Homo sapiens: one gene and its partners. The protein of the gene in region 4 purifies or fractionates together with the protein of the main gene of each other region. This does not show direct contact. Each region holds a gene or a part of one and is shown on either strand. Other genes may lie near its edges. The genes, in order: XPR1, SH3BP4, ATP2B2, VSIG4, TNFAIP2, SGPL1 and AP3S1.

Region 1 (3,500 bases), on a different chromosome or scaffold from region 4:
AAGCGTTTACGTGTCCCCCCTTTGGGAGCTGCTCAGGTTAGTATTTGGTTCCAGTAGTTTGTTTGGTTTCACCTATTTAATAATCAACACAGTATTTAGCTGGCCCCATTATCTTAAAAAAATTTTCAGCCAAAGTTTATAAGTAGTTGCTATTTTTCTTATTTTAGTTTTTTAAACATTATATGCTATATTTTACTTCATTCTGAATTATAATGTCTTCCACCTTTCTCTTCTCATACTGTACTTTCTTGTTTATTCTTACTGACATGTTAACTTACTGGTATCATCAAATGATTAAGATGTGATTTAAAAAAAATGATCTGGTGGGTTCAGATATACTGGATTGCTATATAGCTTACTCCAAAAAAGCATTTATTAAATGATATCTACACAGTAGTTATAAAAAAAGAAAATTTATTAAGTGATATCTTCTGTGTCATAAAACAAGTCTCAATAAATATAGAAGGATTTAAGTCATGCAAAGTATATTTTCAGACAACAGTGGAATAGAAATCAATAACAGAGCTTCCATAGCCTAATGAAAGGCATCTATTAAAAAAAAAATAAAACCTCTACAATTATTATCATACTCAATGGTAAACACTGCATGCTTTCTCCCTAAGACTTGGCCCAAAAAAGGGTATTCACTTTTAACACCTGTATTCAACATTGTGCTGGAGATTATAGCCAGTGCGGTAAGGGAAGAAAAAGAAATAAAAGACATTCAGGGTAGAAACGAAGAAGTAAAACCAGTGGGGTTTTGCCAGTGACTTGATGATCTATGTAGAAAATCTAGTGAATCTATAGAATAGCTACTATAACTAACAAATGAGTTTAGCAAGGTTGCCAAATACAAGACCAATATGTAAAATCATTTGTCTAGATACTTGCAAGAACAATTGGAAATCAAAAAATGTTAAAGCAATGCTGTTTATAATATCATCAAAATATACAATGCTTAGTAATAATTCTGACAAAAGATGTGTAAGGCCTTTACATTGAAAACTACAAAACACTGCTGAGCAAAATTAAAGACTTGGATGAGAGAGATGCTATGTTCATGGGTATATTGCACACACCCAGTATTTTAAAGATACGTTGTTTCTTCCTGAGGTGATTTATAGATATAATACGTTCCAGCTCAGAAATCTCAGAAGACTTCTTTGTAAAATTGATAAGCAGATTTAAAAATTTATATGGAGGCCAGGCACGATGGCTCATGCCTGTAATCCCAGAAATTTGGGAGGCTGAGGCAGGTGGATCACTTGAGGCCAGGAGTTCAAGACCAGCCTGGCCAACATGATGAAACCCCATCTCGACTAAAATACAAAAATTAGCTGGGCTTCGTGGCACATGCCTGTAATCCCAGCTACTTGAGAGGCTGAAGCACAAGAATCACTTGAACCCAGGAGGTGGAGGTTGCAGTGAGCCGAGATCGCGCCACTGCACTGAGTGACAGAGCAAGACTCTGTCTCCAAAAAAAGAAAAGTATATGGAAAGGCAGAGGACCTAGAATAGCCAAAGCAACTTTGGAACATAAATTGAAGGATTAACATTACCTTATGAAAGCTTATTAAAGCTGCAGTAATCAAGAGAGTGTGGTAATAGTGTCATGGTAGGCAAATGATCAATGGACCAGAATAGAGTGTCCAAAAATAGACTAACATATTACGAACAACAGATATTTGATAAAGATATAAAGCAGATTAGTGGAGAAGGGTAGCATTTTCAACTAAGGATGCTGAAACAGTTGAATTCCATATACCAAAAAAAAAAAAAAATGAGCTTTCATCCATACTTCACAACATACAGTTCTAAATGTACCATAGATCTAAATGAAAACTGGAAACTACAAATTTCTAGAAGAAAATATAGAAGAAAGTCCTAATGACTTTGGGTTATGCAAAGATTTCTTAGAAATGACACCAAAAGCACCTCATCAAAATTAAAAAACGTATGCTCTTCAAAAGACATATTAAGAGAATGAAAAGAAAAGCAAGAGACTAGCAGAAAATATTTATAAAACATATCTGTTAAAGGTCTTATATTTAGAATATATAAAGAACTCCAATACTCAATAGAAGGAAAACAATCAACCCAACTTTTAAAAATGGGCAAAAGACCTGAACAGTTCTTCACAGATGTACAGGTGGCAAATTAGCATGTGATAAAATGCTCAATATCATTAGGCATTATGGAAATGCCAATTAAAACCACGGTAAGATAATACATTGTCTGTTAGAATGATTAAAAAAGACTAATCATACTAATGATGGAGGAGTAGGAACTCTCTTTTCTAATATGCTTTGGTGGAATATAAAATGTATAATGAATAAGCACATTTGAAAACAGTTTGGAAGTTTCTTAAAAGTGTACACCTGCCATATGGTCTAGCTATTACACTCCTAGGTATTTACCCAAGACAAGTGCAAATATATGTTCATATAAAGATTTCTACACAAATGTTCATAGCATCTAAACAACCCAAATGTCTATCAGTAGGTGAATGGATAAACAATTTGTGGTATATCCATACAATGAAACACTACTTAGCAATAAAAAGGAATAACTGATTGATAAATGTAACAATGTGGATAAACCTCAAATTAATTATGTGGAGAGAAAGCAGAAAAAAAAGGTACCTACTATATGATATCATTAACCTAAGACTCCAGAAAAAATGCAAACTAATAAATAGTGACAGAAAGGAGATCAGTGGTTGCTTGTGAATAGAGTGGGGTAGGGTAGGCTGGGAGGAAAGGATTACAAAGACACATGGGAAATTCTTGGGAGTCGTGGATATGTTCTTTGTCTTGATTATGCTGATGGTTTTGTAGACGTTTATGCAGTTTCAAAACTTATCAAATCGTACACCTTAAATATATACAGTTTATTGTATATCAACTTAGTCAGTAAAGCAGTTTTTAAAAATCCTAAGCATATTATTGTCAAACTGCTTGGAAATAAAGAGAAGAATCTTAAAAGCATCCAGAGAGAAAAGACACAAATTCTATACTTTAAGTATGTGCAATTTTTTTATGTCAGTTGTTTTTGAATAAACATTTTAAAATTAGTTTCAAAAAATTAGGGTGTTTAAGAATGCCTGTAGAGATGGTAAAGCTAAAGAAAATGTGGAAGTGGTTATCTCTGGTGCGGAGGGAAGGTTTTGGGATCAGGGAGGAATAGGGAATTCAAAGTTAATGGAAATGTTCAGCTTCTAAATATGGATAGTAGTTATAGATTCACTTTATTATTCATTTCTAACAGTCCAAATAAATTATATGCATTCTTTTGTATATATGATAAATTAAACAATTTTTGAAACTAAAGGTAACTTTTTATCTTTGGAAAAGACAAATGACCATCTTTTGGATGCTTTCAGTCAGAAACTAACAATACAGTTAGAATCTGTTACTCTATTAAGTAATAATAAGACAGAGGGGAGTCTCAATGCTTTGTTTTTGAAGGTTTTTAGAAAACAAAATACCTGAAATGTACTA
Region 2 (3,500 bases), on a different chromosome or scaffold from region 4:
CGTTGGGGTTCTGGGAGGTGATGGGGAAGATCAGGCGGCTCACCTTGCCCAGCTTCAGCTGGAATCCTCGCACCACTTTGGCCTGCTCGCTGGCTTTGACCTCGTAATTCGTCATATTGGAAAACATACAGACCTTGAGATCCTGGGGCCTGGACAAAACGAACTGGTGCTTCCCCCACAGCTGCAGGGCCACCGGGGCAGGGTTGGGTGCCTGGCGTGTGACCTCGCTGACCAGGAGCGTCTTTGGGGCACAGTCATGCCCAAAAATGGTCACTACCGTCTTGAAGGATGGGTGGATGTGTTTAGGGCCGTAGAGACCCACTGTGACTTTTTTATTGATGAAGTCCCACACGGTGGAAGGGTAGAGGATGCTTGGGCCATGGGCCACGACAGCCACGTACATACAGGGCTCCAGGTTGTGCAGCTGTGCCTGGACCGTGTCCCCACAGCTGCAGTTGAGCGGGACGGAGACATATGGCCCTTCCTTCGAGTCGCTCCTCAGGCACTGGAGGCCCACTGTGCTTTTGCTAAAAAGGTCATTTTTTATCTCGGCTGACACTTTCATCTCCAAGATGATAGAGGTTTTCACCTCCAGGTTGCTCAGCTTGACCTCCAGCACAGGGCTGATGCTGCAGGACCTGTCACTGTTGAGCTCCAGCGGGGGGTCCAGCAGGGCTTTCATGGAGATCTGCTGGGTCTCCCCAGGGGCGACGTGGCCCTCGGGCACGTGGATGCTGATGCTGGTGTCAGGAAGCTGGACAGCACCCCCGGAGCTATCCAGCTTGCACACGATGTTTGTCTCCACGGCTTGGGTCTGGCCCCAACCAGGGCTTTGGCCAAGCAAGTCCAGGTCGTGGCAAGACCGGGCCAGCTTCCTGTGGTTTAGCCAGGCAGTTCGAAAATCCTCCCGGCTCTGAAATTGCTCGGGGGCAGGTGATTTCAAGCCGGTGAAGAAACTCGACGATGTGGGAGCATCGGACTTGGCTTGGAGGACGGAGAGTTCCGAGAGACTGTAGGAGCGCTTGCTTCTGAAGAAGGGGTTGTCCCGCCTGACCGGCGGCTCTGCGTGGAGTCCGTTTGTGACTGGAAGCTCATCGAAGATGTTGCCAGTGCTATTCGTGGTGGCTGAGCTGGATTCGGTGAAGGAGGATGTACCTGCGTCAAAAAGGAGCAAATCCACAGTACTTTTGGGATTCAGCTCATCCAGGCTGGGCATGACGGGCACGTTCCCATTCAGAAATGGATTGGTCTGGACCCCATTCCAGAAAGGGTTATTACTGTACATTCTGCCTGGTACTTTTTTGTCATCTGTCCATCCCCCGAGCAGCTCCAGCTCCTTGGCTACCTCGTCTGGGCTGTCTGGAAGATTATCAATCATACCGCTGTCACTCAGTGTTGAGTTCCGGTAGTTCAAGGGCTGCACATAGGAGGAGGGGATGTAGCCCATTTCGGTGGTGTTGTGTGCGTACCACCACTCACCGCCAGATGTGTCCAAGACGTAGAGATGGTCGCCCTTGGAGAACTTCAGTGTGGTGAAGTTGGTGGGGCAATAGTCCTTGATCGCAATCACTTCCTTTGCATTTCCGAAAGGTGTGGGGTTGTCTACGAGCAAGGCACTGGGAGAAGGCACTGTGCAAAACACAAAGAAAACAGATGGTGAGGGCAAGGCCGGCGGGGTGTCCGGAGAGCTTCCCAAAGGAGAGAGGACGGTGGTAAACAGACAGGTGCACAATAACCCAGGCAAGTCACCAACAGAAACAAACCAAAGTGAAATTCAGTAGGTAATTTACCTGGCCAACGAACTGGTTCCTGCTACTTGGTCACCTTCAAAATCGACAGCCTATGTCCGGCAGAAAGACCACAGAGGAGCCTCTCCATCACTCACAGAAAGGCAAATCAGTGCAATGGAATATTTAACATGCCCTACGCCCTAAACATCTCATTTTGGGCAACGTTAAAATTCTTCTTAAAAGAACTGCTACTAGATACAAAGAGAAACTGAATGTGATTAACTTAGAAAACACGGTGACACGGTGAGTTAGGTGACCACTGCATGTGATCAGGGACTGGAAATGAACAGATTCCAAAAACTCCCGCAATGACATGTATGAGCTGATTCCAAGCTCTGCCTCTGGATGGAAAGCTTCCCTCAACCTGCTTCTTAAATTTCCAAACTCAACCTGTTCCTCACCAAACTGTTTCCTCAGATAAAGTAAGAATTCTGAAGTCAGTTCCTTCCAACCTCTTTTATTCTTATTTTACTTATTTATTTATTTATTTATGAGACAGTGTCTCACTCCGCCACCCAGGCTGGCATGTATTGACATGATCTCAGCTCACTGCAACCTCAGCCGCTCAGATTCAAGTGATTCTCCTGCCTCAGCCTCCAAAGTAGCTGAGATTACAGGTGTGTGCCACCATGCCTGGCTAATTTTTGTATTTTTAGTAGAAATGGGGTTTCATCATGTTGACCAGGCTGGTCTCAAACTCCTGACCTCAAGTGATCCTCCCGCCTCAGCCTCCCAAAATGATGGGATTACTGGTGTGAGCCACTGCGCCTGGCCCAACCTCTTTTAAATTATCATTCAAAATCACAACATGAAAACAGACTGTCTACATACCTTGAAAATGAGAGATTATGCCTAGTCATAGCTCATACTATCATTGAACAAGTGTTGAAGCAGTCTGAAAAATTCCAACCCTTCAAAAAGTGAATCAAGTTAATTCATGGCTCCTGCCATTGAACTCTGTATGTTACCAATGTAGACGGCAAATGAAACAGCAAAAATAAGTCAGCCAAACAAGTGGTGTGTTTTGAAAAATAATGGATATGATTAAATGAGAAGATATATTCAGAAGATGAAGAACACTCTTTCTGAAGAAAATAAGCACATATACTTCTCCCCAGGACTCCCCTCCCCCACCTCCCAAACTGCCTCACTTACGGAGTCTGCTGACATTCTGGCTTCCCGTAATAAACAATTGAAAGAAAGAAAGGAAACGTTTCTTTCTTTCTTTCTTTCTTTTTTTTTTTTAAGTTGCCAAAGCAAATGACCAAAGAAAGGAATCCGTTTTTAGTTAAACTAAACCTACATCTTTTCTAATGTGATGAAGTCCACAGTCATCGTATTCTATCAAATTGCCCCCCCGACCCCAGAAAATCACCTGCCAGTTTCCTTTTCCTTTGAAAGGAAATAATCACACTTCCTTGGGAAAGTGTTAGGAAATCAGGTAGACAGTTTCTATTCATTTACATTAACTGGGTTACAGAGATGCGCTTAGCTGGGAGCATCCCTGGGCCTTGAAGCCCCACCTACCTCCTCCTGTGAAATTACAGCAGGCCCGTCTATCTGGGTGTCTCAGAGAACCCGGCTCTGGGATCACTAAACCCAGACTCGAGTGGAGCCCTTAGAAACTGTGTGATCTCCAGAGCCTAAGACTCCACTCATGGTGGACAAAAAGTGTATTTCCTCAATGAGCTTTGGAGAGGACAAAATGCA
Region 3 (3,500 bases), on a different chromosome or scaffold from region 4:
GATCCCCAGATGCCTTCAAGGATCTGGGCCAGGACCTCGGGGTGGGAGAGGGAAGCTACAGGAGACTGGAGCAGGTGGGAGGGCAGCAGATCCTGCAGGGCCGCCAATGCCCACCACGAGCACCCCGTCATGGCCTGCACCGTGTCACCAGGCACAGGAACATGGGAGGGTTTAGAGGGTAGAAGCATCATTTTAGAAAACTTACCCTGCAGTGCAGAGCACGGCCTGGCAGTGGAGGGACCTGTAGGATTGTCCTGCTTAAGAGTTGTCACCTGCCCACAGTGGTGACACCTCAAGTGGAGCTGCCAGGTGCGGGTCTGAGAAAGTTTGGGTAGTGGAGGGGTCTGGGCTGGGTGGTGGTTTGCATGTCATGGAGGGATGAGGAGCAGGAGGGTCTGGGATCCCATCAGTCTATACCTGTTGGAGAAGAGCATTGGACATCGAGCGAGGAGGGAGAGCAGGCCTGAGACAGAGTCCTGGGTGGCACATGTGGGTGGGGAGAGAGGAGCTGCAGAAGCCAAGAGCTGCCCGAGTGATGGTGCAGGCTGAGAACCTACAGAGGAGGCCAAGGGGAGGAGGCTAGAGGGGCAGGAGGATGGTCAGTGGGGAGTGGTGCCGGGAAGACAAGGAAGGAGGCCTGTGGAGGAGGAAGGTGTGGTCCATGGTGGAAATAGTTGCTGAGAGGTCTGCGGGGACAGAACAGAAATGTGACCATAGGAAGCAGCCACAGGGAGGCCCCTGGTGACTGCACACAGTCAGGCCACCCCAGGACTGGAGGCAGGGAGGCGTCTAGGGAGAGGTTTCCTCCCAGCTTTCCGCACAGCTTGAGCTACGCAACGGTCCGCACCACCTGGGAGCCACAGGGCAGAAATTTGACCCGTCCCTGCCTTGGAGGAGCCCCCAGGCTGACTGAGGGAACTATGGAAACTCAGGCCTAATGTCCCAAGGGGACAAGCTTGGGGAGGCTGAGTCCAGGACGGTGGAACTGAGGGGTCACCGACAGCTGGGTGGGAGCAGCCCAGAACGATTCCCAGAACACACGGCACTGCAGCTGGGCCTGAAAGAGGGTAGAGCTGCAAGGGAGCAGGTTGGGGGCACAGTGCCCCAGGTTATGGAACTCAGCGCCTCATTCCACAGGCTGCTGCCGTCTGCTAGGCACAGAGCAGAGAGATGCGCAAGGATGGAGCAGCACATAGAGTTACATGGATCTGATTAAGGGCAGGCAGGGATCCTCAGAGGGTCAGAAAGGCTTCCTGGGAAAAGCAGCCTCTGAGCCAAAAATACAGTACAGGTGGGTGACAGGAGTACCTCCAGCCAAGGGAACAGCCTGCCCAGACACAGGGCCAGTGAGAGCTAGCTCTGTGGGACCGTAAGCACAGATTGGGGGTGGCCAGGGGATGAGAGAAGAGAAGAGGTCAGGATGTGAGTGAGGCCTGGTCACAGAGGACTTCATAAGTGGAGCTAAGAACATGGATGTTATCCTGAGACCAAGGGGGGAAGCAGGAAAACGACATTCCGGGGATGGCTGGGGGACGGAACTGGTTCAGACATGGGTGTTAGAGAGATCCTGAGGTTGCTGTGGGGAAGCAAGTTGGAGGGGGAGTCCAGAGTCAGTGAGAGGAAACAAAGTGATGCTGGTGGCAGAGGGTGGAGACAGAGAAAAGGAAGGGTTTCAGTGGGATTTTGGAGCCAGAATTGGCAGGCCTTGGTGATACATTCAATGTGCAGAATGAGAGACCCATGGATGCTGATACCCAAATTCCTGTCGTGCCCATGGACATCCCTGCTCGCAAGCCCCATGAATGAGGAGTCCCACAAACTCCACAGGTCCCCACCGATGACATCCTTCACCCACCCTTTTCCACTGGCCCCAGCTCAGTGACTGGGGCCACATGTCATTTGTTCATTCTGTTATTCGTTGAATGTTTTATTGAAGATGAATGTCTGGAGGGAGGTCAGGGCCAGAATGGTGGGGCAGAGGTCACTGGCAAATGACAAAGCCAAGGCCTCCTCAGCAAGCCTGGACTCCCCAGGGAGAAAGTGCTGGCTAGTGGTGTCGGGAGGAACAGATGGTGAGGTCCTGCTGAAACCCTGGGAGCCCTGCTGAGGCAGAGGGGGCCCTGAGCACAGTTAGAGGATACAGTGTTTCTGGTTAGGATGGATGCCAATGTGGCCACAGGTTGCAGACAGCAAAGAGGGGGCTGGAGAGGTGAGCAGGGCCCGGGCCACAGGGGGCCCCAAGTCGGCACCAGCCCAGTAAGGAGCCCACTGTAACCTGCTGGCAGCTATAGGCCAGCCTGGAGCTGGGAAGAGCCTGGATGGAGGGGGCGGCTGGACAGGGACCAGAGAGGAAGCCATGCCCAGCCAGGCCCCTCCCGAGGACCAGGGCTGGCCCAGGCTGCCTCCCACCTGAGTGGCCCAGGGCCTGAGCACACTCCTGCCCCAACAGGCATCATCGACAGCACACACACTGAGCAGCGGCAGGTGGTGGCCGTGACGGGGGACGGGACCAACGACGGGCCTGCACTCAAGAAGGCCGACGTGGGCTTCGCCATGGTAGGAACGGCCCACAGAGGGCCTGGGGTGGTGGGGGCTGGGGAGATTGGACTACACAACCTTGGGCTGGCTACTCAGGAGCCCCAGTTCACACTTGGCCCACCCGCCATCTGCCGTGGGTGCCCACCCTTCTCGAGACTCAGCCTGACCCCGAGGTCTTCCTGGAAAGGCATAGGATGCTTCTTGCTCTGGGGGAGCTGTGTGAAGGGGGGCACTTGCAGGCTGAGGAGGAAGATAACAGAGGGGGAGAGGGGGCCAGGGTGAGGCTTCCTGAGGGTGAAGGGAGCTGGGTCTGTGAGGAGCGTGAAGAGTGGGGTGTCCCTGTGTGGTCTGGCTGTGCTGGGCCCACTGGGAGTTGTGTAGGACTGAGGAAGTGGAGGGAGTGAGGATGGTGATGCTAGAAGTGGTCACCTCCCCCGGCCACCCCACCCAGCCTCCTGTCCCTGTCCCCACAGGGCATCGCAGGCACTGACGTGGCCAAGGAGGCCTCAGACATCATCCTGACAGACGACAATTTCAGCAGCATCGTCAAGGCAGTGATGTGGGGCCGCAACGTCTATGACAGCATCTCCAAATTCTTGCAGTTCCAGCTCACCGTCAACGTGGTGGCCGTGATTGTGGCCTTCACAGGCGCCTGCATCACGCAGGTGGGTCCGCAGGAGACCACACCAAAGCCTGGGGGAGGGCGGAGACCCCCCACAGAGGCTCGGGGGCCTTAGGGTACTCCAGGTTGTCCCTGTCAGAACAGCCGGGGATGAGGCACCCATCGATGGAGCACCTGCTGGGGGCCAGGAACTGCATCACAGAGCTCAGGTGCAGGCACTGGCCCCAGGGGAGTCGAGGACATGAGGCTCAGAGAGGTGGCGTGACTTGTTCAAGGTCACCCAGCAAATGGGAGCTGTCAGGCTCACAGCCTGGCCCTCACTGCAGGAGGCAGGAGAGGG
Region 4 (4,134 bases):
CAAAGGAGGGTTCTGTGAAGTTCAGGGTTTCCTGAGTGAGGACCCGGTGGGAAAAAATGGCTGAAATTTCCAGTGAGATGGAATGAGTGCAGTACTCAAAAAACAAGGAACAACCAGCCAAGGGGGATTGGGCCCTAGAGGCAGAGGTGATTGATAGAATTCCATGTAATAATGTGTCCTGAAATGCTGGAATGTCTCCTTAGCCCGTGCACAGCTCCAAATCATCTGCATGCAGCCACCCCTTGGCAAGTATGTTTCTTTATATTCCCACTCCCCATCTCTGCACAAACTCCTCCCTCCCCTGACCAAGTCCTTTCCTATCCCTCCAATCAAAGAGTAAACTAAGCTTAGCTGTTACTTACAGTGCAGTATGAATTTTTGGGATGTATTTGTGCTTTTGAAAGTGCTTATTGTTTCAAAGCTTAGTAGACAAAGCGCAGTGCCAAACCTAGTTAGACTGCTGATGAAATTACAGTCACTCTGGGGCCTGTGAAGAGGAGCAATTTCTGGAGCAGTTGAGCTTTGCTAGGAGGCATAATATTACTCTCTTGTAGGTCAAGGGCCTGTACCAATTGGAAGTCAATGAAAAATTCAACCTAATACAGCATACCACTAATGGGCTGCTGCACTGGAGGCTAGGCTTAAATTTCCCTTAAAAGAAGTAAAAAATAAATTCCTTATGAAAAAGCATGGAGAACATTAATGAAAATGAATTCTCCCTTACCATCAGAGAGGTGGAGCCATTGTAGAAAGTGATTCAAAGAGCTTCCCCAATATGAGATATGAGGCATATTCACCCATAACAGCCTTATCCATTGGCTTGTCAATTATTCAAGCTTTGATGTGTAGAAAGCCCTTTAATACACTAAACTCTTGTACTCTTAAGCCCAAAAGCACCCCGGGCCCAACACCCTGTCCAGTTGCATAGGCTGCACAGGCAAGGGTTAACAGTACAACTAATGAAAATTGGGTAGGTCAGCAAAGTTGATCTCTTCTCCCTGGGCTCACCACAAAGGAAAACACCGCCATACTGGAGTGGGAAGACTCATCCCAAAGGTCGCCCCCACAACCTCTGAATCTTGTGGAGGAGACTCAAAATAAATACAGCCTAGGAGATCAAAGACCAGAAAGCCCCATTGGCTCCAAGGAAAGTCAAGTCAATACCCTAGCAGGGGGAAGAATTGCTTCACTCATCCTGGAACCTCCAACCCCAAGGAGGTGGGGGAAGGGGGGCACCCCACATGACCTGTACTGAAATAGGGAAGGAAGGGGAATGTGTGATGGGACTAGGAGTTTGAGTGAGAGATATAGGGAAGGAAGGGAAGTAAGCAGTCACAGACGCTGGCGGCCACCAGAAGTTTGAGCCTCTTTGGTAGCAGGAGGCTGGAAGAAAGGACAGAAGTAGCTCTGGCTGTGATGGGGATCTTACTGGGCCTGCTACTCCTGGGGCACCTAACAGTGGACACTTATGGTAAGGCAGAAAGGGGGGCCTGGCTGCCATTGCTGGCTTAGGCAAAAGGCTAGAGGGTTGGTGTTTAATGTCTACTATGGAAAGCCTATTCCTACTGGGCAGGTGAGTCTTCTCAGCCAAACTCTGCAGGCTCTCTCAGCCTTGAGCAAAACGGATGGATGTAGTTGAAGGCTGCTGAAGAAGCCAGAAGGCAAGTTTGGGCAGAAATTGAAAAAGGATTTTTCTCTTGGAAAACATCTGCATTATTTTCTAGGGCTTGTATCTCAGGGGCATCAAGAAGGTTCCCAATGACATCCGAATCTTTCCTCCATCTGCTGTCTCTCATCTAAAATTCTACAATTGGACTTAACCACTCTGCTTCCAAGCTTTGGTCTCTGTTAAAATATACAGCCCCCGAAGAAGGAGTGTTTTCTAAGAGTTGGATAGGACTATAGAAGTAACCTATACCACCCTTCATTGTCATGAATAAGTGCTCAGAAACATCCAGTAGTGATTGAGATTTCACTGTTCACTACCTCCCCAGACCATCTAGTCCATCCAGGAGCAGCTCCAACTGTTAGAAAGTTCTTATTTGTGTTGAACTAAATCCAGTTCCCTCTGACTTCCATCCAAAAACCCCAGCTTTGCTTCTTGGGGCTACACAGAACATAGATGCTTCCTTGCCCTGTGATAGCCCTTCAAAGCCCTGAGGACAAGTACTATGTCTCCTTGACTCTTCTCTCCTCCAAGCTGAACAGCCCCAGCTTTTTCAACTGGTCTTCATAGGACTTGGTTTCTTACCCATTCCTGGGATAACTCACTTCCCTATAGACATGGCTCAATTTGTCTGGGCTATTTATGGGCTGGATACAAATCCCAAAGGAGGATGGACTATTCCATAGTGGCATTATTTCCTTGGAGCTTGGGAAGCTCTATCCTCATCTACACTCCTGAGAAGTGAGATGGATTTTCAGGAAACTCAACCTGGGTAACAGCTAAGTGAGATCCAATATAGGGTAAAGGGGGATTTTGCTGCTTCCCTATCATCCCTAGAGAAAAAGGCTGGATAGGTGTTAGCTTGGTGTCACTTGTTAGGTCAGAAAGAATCCAGCTTTCCGTAGCTGACTCTGATTAGGTTACCCTATCCTGGGGCTCTGTGACCCATCACACTCTGGAACCTCAGAGTTAGAAAAGACTCTGAATTAAGTCAACCAAGAGAAAAAATAATTTGCCCCCAAGCCAAAGAGCATTAGTGGCAGAGTTAATGCTCCTGAAAAAACATTTTTCTTTCTATAACTACCACATTTCCATTCTCTAGCAGGTTTTATAATGTATCTCTCTACCTTCTCCAAGTCTGTTGGTTTGAGCTAGGGCTTAAGCCTGGGGCTTGAGGGAGCATTTTAGAAATGTTAAATTTAAATCCTTTGTTTGTGTGTGTGTATGTGTGTGTGCATTCATGTGTGTGTGTGTGTGTGTGTGTGTGAGAGAGAGAGAGAGCACTCATGTGTCTTGTTCCTTCCCCAGCCTATGAGCTTTTCCAGACCTGGAAGCAGGCCTTCCATTTGTACACAGGATCTTATACTATAGACCTCAGGCTCAGGTTATGCTGAGCTGCAAATAATACCTTCCCTCTCCCTGGACCTCATTGTTCCTAGCCCATCTGTACAGTGAGGAGGTTGACTTGACTGGTCTTAAAGGGGTTTCTCAGCTGGACAACTCTGTGGGACTGCAGCTTCACTGCTAAAAACCCTGTAGCGGCCAGAGTAAGCTGCTAGCCTCTTCCTGTGGGGCTAAGAGATATGTCAAGATAATCAAAATTTAAAAAATTTCTAATATTCACATTTTATATACATTTTAAACATTTCAGAAACATTTTATAAACATCTATTATATAAGTTAATCCTCCATCCAGGAGGCATTCCAGGAAAGGGAGAGAAGCCAGTCATGTGGGGGAATGGGATAGAGATATGGAAAATGTCAACCTCTTTGTGATGATGGGAGGAAGGGGATTCAGAAAGAGACCTAGAATGGGTCTTATAAAGGAGCACACACCTAGTAAATTCAACCTTTCTTTTCTTCAGTGCCATTACACAGGCATCAGACATTTGCTTTTATAAGGCTGGGTCTCAGGACCACATTAAGCTCAATACTGTATATATACTTATCAGCAATAAGTATATATACTTATCAGCAATAAGTATATATACGTATCAGTAATAAGTTTATATACTTAGTAATAAGTATATATACTTATCAGTAATAAGTATAATATAATATAATGTTATATATTATATATAAGTAATTATCAGTAATAATTATATAATTATTATATATTATATATAAGTAATTATCAGTAAAGTGGAAGTAATAATAAAGGAAGTAATATAATATAATAAGTATATAAATATATAATATAATATAATATATTATGAATATATTATATTATATTATTATTATATAATATATATTATATATTGTATTATATAATTATTATATATATTATATTATTATATAATTATATTATATATTATATTATTATATGATATATATTATATATTAATATTATTACATAATATATATTATATATTATATTATATTATTATATAATATATATTATATATTATATTATATTATTATATAATATATATTATATATTATATTATTATATAATATATATTATATAT
Region 5 (2,240 bases), on a different chromosome or scaffold from region 4:
GAGCCCCTCCACAGTCGGCCTCATGACTGTCCTCCTCGTGGGTGGGGCCGAGGGCCCTCTTCAGCTCTCTGGAGACAGGGGCCGAGCCTCACCCATCTGCCCTCTGCAGCCCAGGGCCGCCGTGAGCGGGATTCAGCAATGGTGGAATGGAAGACAGAACTGGAAGAGAAAGAAGGAAAAGATGAGCTCTCGTCTGGCAGGGGCTTTTAGGGTCCTGTGGCGAGCTGTGAGCACCGCCAGCATTAGACGTCACATCCAGGTGGCCCCACGGCCCCTACAGGCTGGCCCTGCAATGGGGCCCTGAGCCCTCCCTCTTCATCCCCCAAGGCCTCAACTAGAGGGTGGTCCCCCGAGGGCTTGGTGTCTACTACCGAAGGGCCCAAGACCTCCTGGGTCCTCTCAGGCTCCCCCTTCCCCAAGGCAGGGACAGGCCCTGGGGGTGCCACCGTGGGCCCTGCCACCCAGAAGTCTGGCTGAGGTCTGGGCAGGGGCAGGGCAAGCTTGACCTCTCACTGTTGACCCTTTGGCCTCTGTATTTGTTTCCTATTGCCGTGACAGGTTTCCACAAACTTCGTGGATCAAAACGAGGTCTTCCAGTTCTGCGGGTCAGAAGGCTGACCCGGGGCTCAAATCTGGGTGTCGGCAGTCCTGCACTCCTTCTGGAGGCTCTAGGGGAGAATTCATTTCTGGCCTTTTCATTTTTAGAGGCTGACCGTAATTCTTGACTTCAGGCTCCTCCATCTTCAGAGCCAGCTGTGGGTAGTTGAATCTTTTTCCCGTCACCTCATTGAGGCCTCCCCTCTCCTGCCTCCCTCCACCACTTTTTTTTTTTTTTTTTTGAGACAGGGTCTTGCTGTGTTGCCCAGGCTGGAGTGCAGTGGCCTGGTCATGGCATCAAGGCTCACTGCAGCCTGGACCTCCTGGTTCAAGTGATCCTCTTGTCTCAGTCCCCTGAGACAATCCCCCACGCCCAGCTACATATTTTTTGTGGATACAGGGTCTCATTCTGTTGCCTAGGCTTGTCTGGAACTCCTGGGCTCAAGGGATCTTGTAGCCTTAGCCTCCTAAAGTGCTGGGATTATAGGCATGAGTCACTGTACCCGGCCTGCTCTACCGCTTTTAAGGACGCTTATGATCACATTGCGCCTACCCAGAGAACCCAGGTCGTCTTTCTATTTTCAGGTCAGCTGATTAGCCACCTTAGTTCCATCTGCAACTTTAGTTCCCACTGGCTGTGTAACCTAACATAGTCACAGGCTCTGGGGACTGTCACGTGGACATCTTTGGGAGGCCGTTATTCTGCCCACCGCACCCTCCGTTCATCCCCTGCCCTGCCGGGCACCTCGCTCTACCCCAGGAAAATGTGAGCTCGTTTTCCTGCTCGGCATGTGCTCCCCCTAAGGCTCTGCTCCTCCCTGGGCCTGAAAGTTCCTTCTCAGCCTGAGAGGGGGCCCTTCGGACTCAGGCATGACTCAGCCCGGCTGATGCCTCTGCAGTGCTGAGTCAGGATTTGGGGCCGGCTCTCTTGGGTCCGTCCCCTTTTCCCAGGTACTGCCTTACAAAGCTGTGGCCAGGAAGTGGCCGGTATAAAGGATGCCCAAGGTCTTTGTACGTGTGTAGGAGTTAGCGTGTTTGATATTGTTAATATAATAATAATTATTTTTTAGAGTACTGCTTTTGTATGTATGTTGAACAGGATCCAGGTTTTTATAGCTTGATATAAAACAGAATTCAAAAGTGGCTGTGGAGTGATTTATTTTGGGAGCTGCACAATGATGGGGGGCCCAGCCAGGCAGCCTTAGCAGCTTTCTGAGCCTCTAGGGGTCCGGGCAAACCTACCTAGGTTCTGTGTCAATCCCCAGCCTGTCCCAGCCCCCAGAGCACCTCATGTGGTCCAGGCAGGAGATGGCCCACCATCCCCTCACTGTGAGCAGGAGCTTTGGAAGTGTCTGCCTGTAGGGCATGGACAGTCACTTCACCCTTCCGTGCCTCAGTTTCCTCATCTGTAAAAAGGGGACTGTGACCCTTTGGGGCTTCCTCCACCGTCCTTTACTGAGGAAGAGGGTGGGGTGGACACGGGGCAGCCATTTCAACCGCATGCACGGGACACAGAGTGGGAACTGACTCTTACCATGCTGGCATTGACCTGAAAGCTACAGCTGTGGACACAGGAGGTCTGGTTTGTATTCAGAGACGGGCTCAGCTGCCACGGAAGGGTGGGCCTCTCCGCAGCCAATCTG
Region 6 (3,500 bases), on a different chromosome or scaffold from region 4:
ACAAGGACCAGAATCACTTTTACTGCAGCATGGCCAGTTTTCTGGCCACTGTTCCTAGTTATACCTTTGATTCTTTTACACACACACTGTAGCTGCTGCCAAGGCAGGATCAAAGTCCAAATACTGCCCTCAAGGATGTGCTGACTTTAGCAATGCCAACCAAGTGAAGCAGCAGTGATGTCAATGTGGCAGAGAAAAGGGTTATGGGGAAATTGGGTGCAACTTTTTTTTTTTTTTTTTTGAGACAGAGTCTTGCTCTGTTGCCCAGGCTGAATGGAGTACAGTGGTGTGATCTTGGCTCACTGCAACCTCCACCTCCTGGGTTCAAGTGATTCTCATGCCTCAGCCTCCCAAGTAGCTGGGATTACAAATGCCTGCTACCATGCCTGGCTAATTTTTGTATTTTTAGTAGAGATGGGGTTTCACCATGTTGGCCAGGCTGGTCTCGAACTCCTGACCTGTAATGATCTGCCCACCTCGGCTTCCTGAAGAGCTGTGATAATAGGTGTAAGCCACCGCGACCGGCTGAGTGCATCTTGACCTTTAGAGAGAAGCTTCGCTTTTCAAATTTTTAAGAGGCTATTGTACATGCCAGAAAGTAGCTGATCAGTCAGAATATCACCATATATCTTTAGGAAAAATGTTAGTTTAGTTACTTGTGCGGTGCCTAGCATTGAGCAGTTGCTTGACTGTCATAATAATTCTGCTGTCTCTACTGTACTCTTGCATCTGGATAACTTTGTCTTTCTTACCTTTGGAGATTCAAGACAAGTTGAACAAGACCAAGGATGATATTAGCAAGAACATGTCATTCCTGAAAGTGGACAAAGAGTATGTGAAAGCTTTACCCTCCCAGGGTCTGAGCTCATCTGCTGTTTTGGAGAAACTTAAGGAGTACAGCTCTATGGGTATGATGCTTGGCATATACATGCTCTCTACTTCCTTAAAGAGACAGGTTTTGTCATTGTTTAATGTTCACATAGGTTAAGAATAACTCATCATTGGTTAATACATGTTTAGGAGGGCCTACTCTCTGTTTCACAGGTTGAATTTCCTATTTTTAAAATTATGTTTAGATTCATCCTTCATCCATAAAGCAAGCAAATCTCAGAGACAGTGGAACTTGGCTTTTATTTCCTTTTGTAAGCATGAATAAAACAAATATATTTGTGTTTAAGAAGAGAGAATATAAGATATGTAATACAAATGAAATACAGATCCATGTAAAAATGTGAAATCTGCATAAAGGCACAAAAGAAAATAAGTCACTATAATTCCACTATCAAAGATAAACAGATGGTGTCTATCTTTATGCATGTAGCTATAGGTAGAGCTGTCTATATAGTTTACATCTATCTATATATGTATATCTGTCTGTTTCTGAGAATGCTAATAGTGTTTGTCTGTGTGTATACACATGTATGCATGAGCACATATGGGATGGATAAATAGACCAAATAGCTTGGTGCTTAAGAGCGTAACCCTGGAACCAGCCTGGATTCATACCTTGGTTTGCCACTTAAAGTATGCCTTTGGCGAGTTACTTCTGTATGTCACAGTTCCTGTATCTCTACAATGGGGATAGTAATAGTAGTACAGTACTTACCTGAAAAGATGATTATGGGGATTAAATGAGATCATACATGTATAAATGTTTTATAGTGCCTGGCATATAGTAAGGATTCAGTAAATGTTAAACATTATTGCTATTATTAACTCAAACAGATTTATGTTTGTTACTGATTAAGATCATATTACAAGTACTTTTTAAAAAGAAGCTTTTTAGTTTGATATATTTACAGAAAAGTAGCAAAGATGATAGAGATTTCCCTATACCCAGCTTCTCCTGATGTTAACATCCTCTATAACCATGGTACGTTTATCAAAACTAAAAAATTAACATTGGTACAGTGCTATTAACTACACTACAAATTCTATTTCTAGTTCATCAGGGTTTTTTTTTGTTTTGCTATGTTTTGTTTTAAACTAATGTTCTTTTTTCTATTCTAGGAGCCAACCAGGAGCCATGTTGCATTTTGACAAATACCCTTATTTTTTATTTTTTGAGACAGAGTCTCACTGTGTTGCCCAGGCTGGAATGCAGTGGTGTGATCTCAGCTCACTGCAACTTCCACCTTCCAGGCTTAAGCAATTCTCGTGCCTCAGCCTCCCAAGTAGCTGAGATTACAGGCGTGCGGCACCATACCCAGCTAATTTTTTGTGTTTTTAGTAGAGATAAGATTTCACCATGTTGCCCAGGTTGGTCTCGAACTCCTGAACTCAGGTGATCTGCCCACCTTGGCCTCCCAAAGTGCTAGGATTACAGGTGTGAGCCACTGTGCTCGGCCTTGACAAATACCCTTACAATTTCTAAGTGACATGTGTTGAGGTCTTGACATTGAATAGTACAAAATTTGATATAGTCTAGGATGTAGATGAATAAAGCAGTGGTTAGCACTCTAAAACCTGGTGTTAAAGATTTCCATGATTATGAGACCTGGTTGCCGCCATCATATTGCCTTCTCTTTAATGTTTAAGTCACTGTCCATTGCTGTATTCTCTAGCATCAGTAAAAGAACAGGAAATGAAACCAGTTATCTTATTTTTGAAAGGCTGGTGACCACTGGTCTGAAGCTGTGTATAGTACAGAGCAGTGTCCTCTAAGGAAAGAGTGAAAGTCAAACGGGCAGCAAGCCAGAGCTTGGCAGATTGCTGTAAGAATGAGTTTGTCTGTATATTTACCACTTAGTTTTCTGTTCTCAAGAGCTGAAGATCTTTGCTTTGGAGAGCCCTTGGCTCCATGCAGTTTTTAGTTGGTGTGTTTCCGTAATAGCTTTCTCACTACCCACTTTCAATAGGGCACAGCTGCATTGTAGCACAAGGACCTGAGACACCCATATCAACAAATTTGTGGGTAAAATGAAGAATGTCTCGGGGAGAGAGGAAAGTGGAAAGTCAGATCTTATATTCTACTCAGGAACTTTACTTTTCTTTCCACACTGGGATAAAGGAGGTTTATCCCAATGTTGACTGTGTTCCTGATCTTGAATATGCTACAGCGTGTGCTGCTGGAAGCAGGTAACTAGTTTTATGTGGGTTTCCAGGCTTGGCTTAAGGGAGCCGGCGTCTGAGACCGGGGTGCTCATGGTTTATACCTCATTGTGGTTTGTTTGCTGGTTTCATCTCTGATGATAGTGTGCTGAAATTTCACACTTTTCATTTTGCTTTCTTCTGCCAACTCTGCTCATAATAGTTCTCAAAATTCCTAGGACTGGATAGGAAAGGAGAGAAGAAGGAAGCTATTGCAGAAAAAGGCCACTCCAAAGCCATATAGAGAACAAAAAATAAGTATAGACAAAGGCAAATGTTCCTGCTGTTAGAAGGCAGTTGAGGATGAGGACAACATTATTATCAGATTGCCTTTATTGTAGCTAAATGCTATTAATATCTTTTTCACATTGCTGATAATAATGATTTTTCATCTTTATTTTATTGTGCTA
Region 7 (3,500 bases), on a different chromosome or scaffold from region 4:
CTCAATAAATTACTTTTATTTTGAAATTTTCAATCAGAGACCTTATAAACATTTCTTTTGCTTACATGGTTTCACACAAAATAGTTGCTCATCACCACGTACATGGAACTTTTAAAAAAGTAATTCACACAGTTAATTTATGGTGTGAAAAAACGTACAGGAAATATCAGAAGAAAAATTAGTTTTGTAAAACTAGAGGTCTATTAAAAATATTTCCAATATTTGCCAATACGCTTTGCAAAAATATTCAGGGTTTTTAATTCAATACTAAAACATTAATATATTTTTATTGATTCTGATTATGACATGTTTGGATGTCAGAAGGTTTGCTACAATGAAAACCCATTGTATTTTGGTGATTTGGTAATTTGGTAATTCCATTTTTCGAGCATTCTAGTTTGAAATACAGTCAAGTTTTATAAGATTTCTGATCTTATTTTCTGTTGGCCACTGTTAATATGCACCTGCAGGTCAAAACTGTAAAAGCAATTCTGTTAAGACTTTGGAACTGAAAACCATTTGAGGGGAAAAAGTACTATTTAACAGTCACTATTCTAAGCCTTCACTGCTTCCCATTTTGTATGCAAAACTCTGAAGGTTCAGCTTTTGGTTTTTAAATTCACAGCTTCCAAAACCCAGCAGGCAATTTTATGTTAGAATCCTAATTTAGAGATGGAAAAAAAACAAATCTGTGAGAGTTAAATTAAGATTGGTTCTGCTATATGATGCTCAAAATAAATTTTACGTTTTTATATACAAAGTAAATTGTCACTTCTGCAAATGCAATTTGTCAGTTAGATGACAAGTGTTTAAAAAAAATTTAAACTTTCCTTTTACAATGCAGGCAGACAAAACAGAACAAACATGACATCAATGATATACTAGTAAAATACACTAAGTCCAATAAAAGATGAAGAAACTACAAGGAGAAACTAGAATGGAAAATAGGCTACAGGGACTATATGGGTTTATTAACACAAAGAATTTTTGAGTCTGGCCTAAATAATTAATTGCCTTTGACATCATTTTGCTTTCCCTTTGTTATAGTACATATTTCTCAAAGTCAGCAATACCTTGTCTACCTGTCCTGTCTGGGAGACTGAAAGATAAAGGTCTGTAAGAGAGAAGAATGGAAAGAGCTAGAAAGATCAGGATGTTCGGAAAAAAAAGAGGACTGACTTTCAAAAAGTAGTGACTAAATTCAGACCCATTTATCCATCTTAAGAATAACATGAAATACATAAAAGCTAACAGATCTCCCCAACCCCACCCCTCTACCTCCACCCCCAGGGAGTCCTTTTATTCTTAGGCAGGTTCCTGAGTGCCTCTTATACTTCCCCCGAATCCCATCAACCTCCCAGCTTAAACCCTCCTCTCCCAATATTCCAATGTTATAGTAAACCATTTTTCTATCAAAATAGAATAGATGGAAATACATTCAGAGTATATCTTTGCTTCTCTCTTTCAGGATCTGGCAGAGCTTTGCTTCCACCTGTCTAGGTATTGGGAATTAAACTGGTTCACTTTTTTCCATTACCAGAAATGTACTAACTTTAGACCAACATAATAAAAGCTCTGATTTCTGACAAAGGCCCCTAGATAAATGCATGTTATGTTTAAAAAGCTGTGTCTCAATTATACCCAGACTGATTTTTAAATATAAATGATGTTCCTAAGATATTACTTAAATAATTTTTAAAAATATTGATAACCAGTTCTTTTCATCAATCATGACATTCTCGATTTTAAACAAGTCTTTTTTTGTGTGTTTGTTTTTGAGACGGAGTCTTACTCTGTCACGCAGGCTGGAGTGCAGTGGTGCAATATCAGCTCACTGCAACCTCCGCCTCCCGGAATCGGGCGATTCTTGCGCGTCAGGCTCCAGAGCAACTAGGATTACAGGCAAGTGCCACCATGCCTGGATAATTTTTTTGTATTTTTAGTAGAGACGGGATTTCACCATATTTGCCAGGCTGGTCTCAAACTCCTGACCTCAGGTGAGCAGATCACCTGAGTGATCCCAAAGTGCTGGGATTACAGGCGTGAGCCACTGCGCCCAGCCAAACAAGTCATTAAGTTTGTCCTTATATAATACATTTTAACTGAAATTTAGTAAGAAGATTAGGAAAAGTTTATACTTTGTTTCAAGTAATTTTGGATTATTCTGCAGAGTAATATCTCTGGTAAATTTAACCAATTGAAGTAACATGGACATGAAACATATGAAAGCTTTTGACATTCTAGCTGGAATAAAGCTAGAAGCCTTTCAAACATACTTAAAATATACAAAAGCTACGAAAAATTAGTCATCATAATTTTCAGTGCTGTTTTAAAAAGATGATCAGGGCTAAATGGCCTCACTTTGACTTGAAATCCGATTTCATAACTAAAATATTAGCAGACGTTACATGTATAGAAAATATATAATTTTGTAGTTTATCCCCAATCAGACTTAAAACATACTTTCTTGTAAAAGACAAAAGAAGAGAAACTAATTTGGTACCAGATAACAATTATGTATGATGCGAGATGATCAGGGAATGAATAATAGAAGTAATCACCAGTATTCTAAACTATTTTAAATAGCATTATTTCTGTGAATAGATTTTAAGTTATAGTATTCTTATAACTATTTCCATTGAAATGTAAATTACGCATTTTACTGCTCTTTATAGATAAGAAAAATTGCCTCATTAACGAAGTTTTATTCAACAATCAAAAAGCAAATACCCATTATGCAATAATTATAGGTCCTTCATAACTTTTGTCAATATAGCACATTAACCCATTTATGCCGGAGGTTGCAAACTTTTTTTTGTGAAAAATCAGACCTTGGGGATGACCTTGAGCAGTAGGATATAAATAACTCCCACAAGCTTAGCATTCCAATAATGGAACACCAGGCATAAATGTCTTAAGTAGCAGAAGAAAAAGAAGGACCACCACCAATGAAAAGGAGTTAACTACCTAGAAAGGTGAAAATTCCAGACAACTGGTCAATATTTTTTACAGATGATTATGCAGAATTCACAAATTACTAGATACTCATTCATTTATACCAGTTATTAAAGGATTGCATCACTGTTTGTCCCTTGGCATTTAAAATCTATAACCATACAGTTTTGCAAAGCAATGTTTAACAAATGACACACATTTTAAGTTCTTTTAAGACTTTAAAAGCAATAGCTCAGGGTTTATAATAATCTTTTCTTTACTAAATAATATATTGCAAGTCAGTTATACTAAATTAAATTATGAGTCTTTTTCCTTGTCCTAAAACAAAATTTTCTCTATTAACCTAATTTATGTTTTCCACTTTCAAAAGCCAATATTTTAAAAATTGGCTATAGGACAAACAAAACATATAGTTAGTTAAGATAATCTTAGCTCTAAATCACCACTATAAACTTCTCCTTTGGGAAACCAACAGGAATGGGAAATTGAGATAAAGAAAAATGCAAGACTATTTTAAATTTAAAAGAGAACACTGGAAAATGTTT

The links.
Region 1: the proteins of VSIG4 (region 4) and XPR1 purify together in Homo sapiens (affinity purification with mass spectrometry; 3 studies listed by BioGRID and IntAct, with this or other methods). This does not show direct contact.
Region 2: the proteins of VSIG4 (region 4) and SH3BP4 purify together in Homo sapiens (affinity purification with mass spectrometry; 3 studies listed by BioGRID and IntAct, with this or other methods). This does not show direct contact.
Region 3: the proteins of VSIG4 (region 4) and ATP2B2 purify together in Homo sapiens (affinity purification with mass spectrometry; 3 studies listed by BioGRID and IntAct, with this or other methods). This does not show direct contact.
Region 5: the proteins of VSIG4 (region 4) and TNFAIP2 purify together in Homo sapiens (co-immunoprecipitation; 2 studies listed by BioGRID and IntAct, with this or other methods). This does not show direct contact.
Region 6: the proteins of VSIG4 (region 4) and SGPL1 purify together in Homo sapiens (affinity purification with mass spectrometry; 3 studies listed by BioGRID and IntAct, with this or other methods). This does not show direct contact.
Region 7: the proteins of VSIG4 (region 4) and AP3S1 purify together in Homo sapiens (affinity purification with mass spectrometry; 3 studies listed by BioGRID and IntAct, with this or other methods). This does not show direct contact.

The regions. Positions count from the first base shown.
Region 1 is NC_000001.11:180,806,522-180,810,021, forward strand, and holds part of XPR1 (solute carrier family 53 member 1), read left to right. Parts: coding exon 1-36; intron 37-3,500. UniProt on the Homo sapiens protein: Inorganic ion transporter that mediates phosphate ion export across plasma membrane.
Region 2 is NC_000002.12:235,039,017-235,042,516, reverse strand, and holds part of SH3BP4 (SH3 domain-binding protein 4), read right to left. Parts: intron 1,630-3,500; coding exon 1-1,629. UniProt on the Homo sapiens protein: May function in transferrin receptor internalization at the plasma membrane through a cargo-specific control of clathrin-mediated endocytosis.
Region 3 is NC_000003.12:10,345,087-10,348,586, reverse strand, and holds part of ATP2B2 (plasma membrane calcium-transporting ATPase 2), read left to right. Parts: intron 1-2,449; coding exon 2,450-2,556; intron 2,557-3,011; coding exon 3,012-3,203; intron 3,204-3,500. UniProt on the Homo sapiens protein: ATP-driven Ca(2+) ion pump involved in the maintenance of basal intracellular Ca(2+) levels in specialized cells of cerebellar circuit and vestibular and cochlear systems.
Region 4 is NC_000023.11:66,037,281-66,041,414, reverse strand, and holds the start of VSIG4 (V-set and immunoglobulin domain-containing protein 4 isoform 1 precursor), read left to right. Parts: upstream 1-1,334; 5' UTR 1,335-1,416; coding exon 1,417-1,471; intron 1,472-4,134. UniProt on the Homo sapiens protein: Phagocytic receptor, strong negative regulator of T-cell proliferation and IL2 production. Potent inhibitor of the alternative complement pathway convertases.
Region 5 is NC_000014.9:103,135,700-103,137,939, forward strand, and holds the end of TNFAIP2 (tumor necrosis factor alpha-induced protein 2), read left to right. Parts: 3' UTR 1-109; coding exon of another isoform or gene 110-304; 3' UTR 305-1,740; downstream 1,741-2,240. UniProt on the Homo sapiens protein: May play a role as a mediator of inflammation and angiogenesis.
Region 6 is NC_000010.11:70,853,948-70,857,447, forward strand, and holds part of SGPL1 (sphingosine-1-phosphate lyase 1), read left to right. Parts: intron 1-760; coding exon 761-908; intron 909-1,840; coding exon of another isoform or gene 1,841-1,873; intron 1,874-3,500. UniProt on the Homo sapiens protein: Cleaves phosphorylated sphingoid bases (PSBs), such as sphingosine-1-phosphate, into fatty aldehydes and phosphoethanolamine. Elevates stress-induced ceramide production and apoptosis.
Region 7 is NC_000005.10:115,904,435-115,907,934, reverse strand, and holds part of AP3S1 (AP-3 complex subunit sigma-1), read right to left. Parts: intron 1,115-3,500; coding exon of another isoform or gene 1,079-1,114; exon of another isoform or gene 1,074-1,078; intron 1-1,073. UniProt on the Homo sapiens protein: Part of the AP-3 complex, an adaptor-related complex which is not clathrin-associated. The complex is associated with the Golgi region as well as more peripheral structures.